Linked DNA regions of Homo sapiens. The protein of the gene in region 1 interacts with the protein of each later gene in a pairwise test. Each region holds a gene or a part of one and is shown in the gene's direction. Other genes may lie near its edges.

Region 1 (3,752 bases):
ACCAAGAAACAAATGATCACAACTATCAAAAGGATTTAATTTTAAAGAAGAAATAATCTTCAAACTTAAGCCCCTCAAAATATCTGGGCAACTATCAAGTGAATATTCACCAAACTTAGATCAGTTCGTAAAGAGAAAGCCTACAAAGTATGTGTAGAGTTAATGTGAAATTAGTTTTAGCCCATTAAAATGCATTAGATTGAAATAAATTAACATACTCTCAAGCATTACAAATGAGCAGAAATCATTACATTGGGTGCTATTTCTGATTCAGAAGCAATCAGTGAAGGGCTGAAGATTAGTAGTTGGCTTGGTAAGATGTCACATTGGAACCTGGGTCATAATTTTAGGCCAGAAACATTCATGCATATACCAGAATATTAGGTATCAGAAGAAATTCTTTATATTTATTAGAGACCAACTTGTGCTTTTGCCTGCATCTGAGCTGTTGGTGGAGACATGCAATGGGTAAAAGCATGGTTTACAGTACCAACTCTTGAAAAGTACCAAAGCTATGAGTTGTGCCTTAAAAACTACATTTGAAATAAAACATTAAAACATAACTTCCTGGACTGGGCGCGGTGGCTCACACCTGTAATCCCAGCACTTTGGGAGGCCGAGGTGGGCAGATCATGAGGTCAAGAGATCGAGACCATCCTGGACAACACGGTGAAACCCTGTCTCTACTAAAAATACAAAAATTAGCTGGGCGTGATGGCATGTGCCTGTAGTTCCAGCTACTAGGGAGGCTGAGGCAGGAGAATCGCTTGAACCCGGGAGGCGGAAGTTGCAGTGAGCCAAGATCGAGCCACTGCACTCCAGCCTGGCGACAGTGCGAGACTCTGTCTCAGAAGAATAAATAAATGAATAAAATAACATAACTTCCTTATCCCATTTTCAAATTGAAAAAAAAAAGCCAAATGTGCTCCTATTCGGGTTTCAATTAAGATATTATGAGATTTGAGTAGGGTAAGAAATAAAATAAAAATTGAAATTAAAATGCCATTTCTTTTTTGCATTGTAATACATTGAACATATTAAATGAGTTGTGAACCTAAATAATACTAATCTTTTTCGTATGTGTGCTTGGGTGTTCTCGGTCTTTCCAGTCTTGGACATCATGTAACTATTCTTTAAAAAATTCTGCTTTGAGCTGAGCTGGCTCCAGGATAGTTACACCTTCATGAATCTGACTGAGCCCACACAATTTGCTAGTAGGATCCAGGAACACTTGAAGGCTGTTAATATTTGGGGAAAAAAAACAGATAATTCTAGAGTGTAGACAAGGGGAAGAATAGTAAAAGGTCAGAGTTTAATGAGTGAATTTCTACTGGATATGTTGTTTGAAGTCAAAGAGTGAGAAAACATTGAACTTATATGTTGCCTTCCCTCTAATAGTTCAAGTTTGCCTGCTCTGTTGCCTCATATAACCCCTTTAGTCAGTAGTCTAAATTTTATTTTAGAAATTTAACTTTCAAGATAAGCAAATGTCTAGTTTAAAAGGGTCCTCTAGTCTAGGTGTAGTGGCTCATGCCTGTAATCCCAGCACTTTGGGAGGGTGAGGCAGGTGGATCACTTGAGGTCAGGAGTTCAAGACCAGCCTGGTCAATATGGTGAAAACCTGTCTCTACTAAAAATACAAAAATGAGCCAGGCATGGTGGCGGGTGCCTGTAGTCCCAGCTACTTGGGAGGCTGAGGCAGGAGAATTGCTTGAACCTGGGAGGCAGAGGTTGCAGTGAGCTGAGATCGTGCCACTGTACTCCAGCCTGAGTGACAGAGTGAGGCTTTGTCTCAAAAATAAATAAAATAAAACAAAATGTTCCTCTAATTTTGATGAGGGTTTTCTTGGACATTTTCTCTTAGGATCCCACTTATTTCTTCCTTCCTTTCTTCCTTCCTCCCTTCCATCATTCATTCATTCATTCATTCATTCATCCAACAAATATTTGAGAGATTAATATGAGTTAGTATTAGACATACATAAATGAATACTGCACCATGTTCTCTTTTCCCTTGAACAGTTTATGTTCTATCTCTGCTTGCCTCTAAAGGTCTCCCAGTTTGTATCTCACTCCCAGCAATGTTTTATGCTGAATTAATCTCTTCTGAGCGGGGATCTGTGAGTGGTGGTGATCAAGTTTCTCTAGTCTCAGGAAATATAGGGTGGGTCATCTATGCATAAAAGATATAGAAAGAGTAAAATAGAAAATAAGGTTAAGAATTAATTAGATAGCCAAATTGGAACAATACTCCAATTATCAGAAAATATTTTAGTGTGTTTTCTTCTTTAGAGTAGAGAACCTAGGAACAAGAGAACCTGCAAGAGAGGCTTGGAACTTTTGAGAACAAGCCCTCCTCATCTGCTTCAGTATCGAGATGTTAAAATGGCTTAGTCCTCTGATGGGCTTCCTGTTAGATTTAGTGAGCGCCACATGGCGTTAATAAAAAACAGAATTGCCATAAAGATAGAACATGTGTGTTCCTGGAATAGTATAGCAGGCAATAAGTAAGTCAGCAATGCTTCTGCAGTTTATGCAGGGTGACTGCTCAGCAGTAATTGCTTCAGTTCAAGCATGAGCAGAATGTGTTAGCTGCAGCCCTGGCTTCATAGTTGTAAGCAATTTCTGAGGGTGGAAGAAGAGATGGGAAAGAATTTATGATCTAACCGTTATCTGGGTCTGTGTGTTTATTCAGCTCTGTGCACCTAGAGGAGGCTGGCATTCTACGGGCTGGTCCAGGAGGGCCTGATCAGCAGTGGCCAACAGTATCCAGTGCAACACCAGGTAAAGAGCTGGGGTCTCTCCATTCTTTCTTGGTTTCTGGAAAGTGATCAGATGACCTACTTTTGTAAGATCAGGAATGTTGATGGCTCTTTTTCTTTTATATTTTTGTTATTCCCTTTTTTCCATACATACATGATTTCCTTACATATATGATTATTTTGATTTTATACCTAATGCTCTTCAGGAGTTGAAAAAGGATAACAAGGAAAGTGTGTGTGCACGCATGTGTGCATGTGTGTGTGTGTGTATGAAGTTTTTGGGGTTTGTTTGTTTGTTTAAATCAGGTACCTTTCAAATGCTTAGGTCATCCAAGCCATGCAGAGAAGATCTGGTGGCCTTATGCACAGAGATGACACTGTTAACAAAGATCTTTTGGTTGAAGACTATGGAAACCCACCCAAAGTAGTAAGGAAAGAAAGAGAAAAAGAAGGAAAGAAAGAAAAAGGAAGGAAGGAAGGAAGATGGTTTCTCATGGAAGTGGAAAATTATCGGAACCAAGGCATTGTTTTGAGTTCAAGTCAAAGTCAATCTGCTTCTCTCTGCACATCAACAACATTCTGCAGACTGACTTTTAGTGCCTTGGCATGCATGTTGCCAAACATGACCGCCTCACAATTTCTTAGTTTAGAGGGATAATAGGGACTATTTCCTAATCCAAACTTTCAGGAAAGAGAACCTGCTAAGTTGTGTAAAAAACCTAATGGCTGGGTGAGTATAGGAAAATTGCTTAAACTCACATTTGCTTGGTATCCTTATTCTTGCCCTATCACTAAAGCAGGGTCATGTAATAGAAATATGGCTTTGGAGGCCCATCGCTGTGGCAGTTTTCAGAAAGGGAAGATTAAGTGTTGGTAGAGACCACAAATTGTGTCTACTCTAATCCTCTATTAATAGAACATCATGATGATAATAGTAGTTACTAATTATTAAGCCATAATATGCCTAGACACTGTGCCAAGTACATTGTA
Region 2 (3,752 bases), about 95 Mb from region 1:
TTCATATTTATAAAATAATTGATATCAAGAGGCCATTCTTCTAAATGCAATGGTCCAAACTTTTATATTGTGGCTAATGATGTTAATTAGTCTCCCAGAATACCACTAATTTTGAAACCAGTAACAGATCACAGAAGCAGCACACTATGGCTGTATATCAGCCAAAGAGGTGCTATATTTCATGAGAAGTTATCAAAAGCATTTATCTTTTGGGAATTCTATTTCTTTCTTTTAGAAGTGAATCTTAAGTGTGAGTTGAGGGGACAGATTTATGACATTATTTGACTTCAACTGTAGATAAAATAGGAGCGACTGTAAATCTGGTACCGTGTCAGGAAATTAACCATAAATATTTTTATTCAATTCTGCTCAATGACAAATATTTATTTCATCACAGAGAGGGGAGAAAAGAATTTTTCATTCAATATTTAGAGAAAATATTGTAAATACAAGCACCTTTAGTAGTAGTAAAGTATGACGATTATTTAAATCTCATTAAAGCTTTAGGTTAGAAATGTCTGACATCAGGCTGTTTCAAGTAGAGAAGATAACGTAAGCAACTGGGGCTGGGAAACCTTAAGAAGAGTGGGAAGTTCTTGTTAGGAACAAGGAGGAGTTCTCCTTACCACAAGCCTTAAAGGGTTGCATGTGGGTAGAGAAAAAAAAGTATGACTGAATTTGAAATTCTTCTTGATTTAGTATCATGGACTAATCTTTACAACGCCACTTTATCTCTTCTAGAAACCTATAGGGAGAAGATACACTCTACATAAAAAATAAGTGGCCTATGAAAATTATTTTATTAGTAGTTAATATTATACTTATTAGTGATAATATTTTATTTAGCCTATTCTATATATTTCCAGTGAAAAAGGTAAAATAGTTACCTAGATTATGATTTTGCTGTAATTATAAAGATCATTAGTTTTCCAGTGAGTGTCCTCTCTGCTTTGCTGGTATTTCAGAGAAAGGAAGTTTCTACGTAACAGTTTCTTTCTCCATCCCCTTCAGTTGATGGGGTTTTATTATAAGGAAGGAGAAATAAGTAAAGAGTCCTATCATTGTTGACGTTAGGCTTTGTGGAGAACTGGCACCTTATTCAGGATACCACAGAGATTCCAGTGTAAGATAGAATTCCGAAGCTATCATTTTTGTGTCGTGGCTTCTCTTCATACAGGTTCTATATGCTACACTTTGCATACACTATTGCATGTAGTCCTCACACAGAGTAACTCTAAGAGTAGTAGAAAAAAATGAAAGTTTATGGCAGCTAAATATCTTGCTCCAAATCATCCAGTTAGTGGAGCTAGGATTTTAACTCTGGTCTGCCTTCAAAGTCCAAGCAAGTTCTTTTACAAATACTTTTTCTCTGGGGCAGGATGAATAGAAGTAGGTAGATATATGATATGTAAAAACATCTCAAATACACAACTCTTTTGTTTTTTAGATATCTAACCTAAGAGCATATTTCTAACCTCTTTGTTTCCTATTTTATTTATTTTAACATATTCTGTTGTAAAAATGAAAACCCTTAATAAGTAAAATCCAGATCTATATGCAAGACAAATAAGAAATTATTATTTACTTTGTTAATGGCTCTTTGGCTTATTATAAAAGGTTTTCTTTAAATATCCCCCATTAAAGTGTATGTTTTCATTAAAAATCCAATTAATAAATATTCTTAACATTTGCTATCTTAGATGCTATCTATCTTATAGCAGAAAATATATAGAAGACAAGATACAGTTTTGAACTTTAAATAACTTGAATCAGTAATGATGGAAGAAACACATACAAATAGTAACAGAATCAAAAATAGGAAACATGTTGAGAATATATGCTGCTCTGAGGGTTGTAAAAAAAAAAACTAACAAATGAGGTGAAAGAAGGATGAATAGGAAAAGCACATGTGATTTTTAGGGCAGTGAAACTACTGGTGTATATACATGTCTCTATGTATTTGCCCAAACCATAGAATGTACACCAACAGTGAATCCTAATGTAAACTGTGGGCTCTGGTTGATAATGAGATGTCAGTGTAGGTTCATCATTTGTAACAATTTTTTTTTTATGGTGGGGGATGTTGATAATGGGGAGGGACTATATATGTGTAGGGGCAGGAGGTATATAAGAAATCTCTGTACACTCAGTTAAAGTTTTCCATGAACCTAAAACTACTCTAAAAATAAAGTCTACTAAAACAAAAATAAAACACACACTCACACACAAACAAACTAAGAAACTCATTGCCAGAATGGGATTTGAGGGAGAAGTAGAAAGGGATTTGAGGGGATTTGAGGGCTGTTAGGTAGAAAGATAGCTGGAATGGAAGTAATCATATCTCCTGTATGTGTACCCAGGTAGGCATGAGGGCAAAGCATGAGCAAGTGCCCTCTTGCCTGAGATATGGGATGCTTGTCCTCAGTTGTTAAAAGAGGGGGATGGAAAGGCAGGAGGAGGCCATATCCTGGAGTGCCTTGACAAACAGACTAAGTTGTTTTCGTTTAATTGAGAGAGTCAGTGCTGGTTGTTGACCTAGCAAATTGATTGTTAGGTAAGTTGCTTTGGGAGTGGTGGGACTTGATTAGAGAGAAGAGGCAGGAGACTCATGAGGAATTTCAAGCAGAAGGTGGCTCTGCCCAGACCAGAGAAATAAGAATGGAAGGAGGGGATAGATAGGAAAGATGATATGGTAATAAAATGTGCAAGACATAGAAACTGAGAGTTAAGGTAAAGAAGGAGCTTGGGTATCTAAGAGAAATTTTGAGAGTAAAGAGCTAGAAAGAAAGACTCATGGGCAATTAGGTAAGAGATTTTCATGAGGTCAATTTTTAAGAACCCATTTACTTTTTTTAAAGAAGGTATATTGCACTTCTAGAACAGGTGATGATTGTATTTTTTTGTTACCTAAGGAATGAATCCATGCTAACTAAAGACAATATTATGTAAGCATATAAAAGCACCTGTGGTTTTGTCTGCAAAATAGAGTCGATGTTACTTTAAAAGGATATTATGGGGTTTAACAGAGTTTCCTACTGGTATTGAGATATCTAATGGCTTCAGACCATATTAAGTATTGCTAGCAAAAAGCTATAGTGTGATAAGCATTATTACTGTAGTAAAGAATGAATGGTGCTTTCTTTTCATCTCTATTGCTCTGAGGGATGGGATATTAGTTTTCCTTCAAAAAAAGCTTCTATCTTAATTACAGAAATGCAAAGATGTCTGTAGAAATGAGTATTTTTCATTAGGTTGCTGGGTGCTTCCCACAAAATTGGATTTCTTGTGGTAAGTGAGGAAGGGTAAATGGGTAGTGACTAGGCCACTGGCATTGTGTGCCACAATTATATGCCAGGCCCTGGGATTAGCATATATCGTCTCGTTTAATCCATAAAACCCTGTATATTTGGCTCTGTAATAATCTTCTTTGAACAGGTTAGAAAATGTAAAATAAAATCATTTAATTGGCTTGTATTTAAATAAAACAGCTGGTAAGACTTTCTGAATGAGGACAGCTGCAGTGGGAATAGTAAAGTGCAAATGGATGAATACAACATACATTTAGGTGTGAGAACTAAACAGCCTTGGTGATCAATTGGATATGGGTTTGAGCAGATTTAGGGCCAGGAGTTATTTAGGATGGCTCCATGGTTTCTGGCTTGCAAATCACACATAGAGTTATTCCATTCCCTGAGATAGGGGATATGTGAGGAATATATGTGGGAGAGGAGATTATGAGTTTGAGCTTAGGC

What was found. Proteins that work in one complex are often made in the same cells at the same time.
Region 2: the proteins of PCDHA2 (region 1) and HCN1 interact in binary tests that used the Homo sapiens proteins (3 or more experiments, as listed by UniProt).

What each region holds. Positions count from the first base shown.
Region 1 is NC_000005.10:140,979,780-140,983,531, forward strand, and holds part of PCDHA2 (protocadherin alpha-2 isoform 1 precursor), read left to right. Parts: intron 1-2,695; coding exon 2,696-2,784; intron 2,785-3,752. Other genes in the region: PCDHA1 (protocadherin alpha-1 isoform 1 precursor), read left to right, coding at 2,696-2,784; PCDHA3 (protocadherin alpha-3 isoform 1 precursor), read left to right, coding at 2,696-2,784; PCDHA4 (protocadherin alpha-4 isoform 1 precursor), read left to right, coding at 2,696-2,784; PCDHA5 (protocadherin alpha-5 isoform 1 precursor), read left to right, coding at 2,696-2,784; PCDHA6 (protocadherin alpha-6 isoform 1 precursor), read left to right, coding at 2,696-2,784; PCDHA7 (protocadherin alpha-7 isoform 1 precursor), read left to right, coding at 2,696-2,784; PCDHA8 (protocadherin alpha-8 isoform 1 precursor), read left to right, coding at 2,696-2,784; PCDHA9 (protocadherin alpha-9 isoform 1 precursor), read left to right, coding at 2,696-2,784; PCDHA10 (protocadherin alpha-10 isoform 1 precursor), read left to right, coding at 2,696-2,784; PCDHA11 (protocadherin alpha-11 isoform 1 precursor), read left to right, coding at 2,696-2,784; and 4 more. UniProt on the Homo sapiens protein: Potential calcium-dependent cell-adhesion protein. May be involved in the establishment and maintenance of specific neuronal connections in the brain.
Region 2 is NC_000005.10:45,647,697-45,651,448, reverse strand, and holds part of HCN1 (potassium/sodium hyperpolarization-activated cyclic nucleotide-gated channel 1), read left to right. Parts: intron 1-3,752. UniProt on the Homo sapiens protein: Hyperpolarization-activated ion channel that are permeable to sodium and potassium ions. Displays lower selectivity for K(+) over Na(+) ions.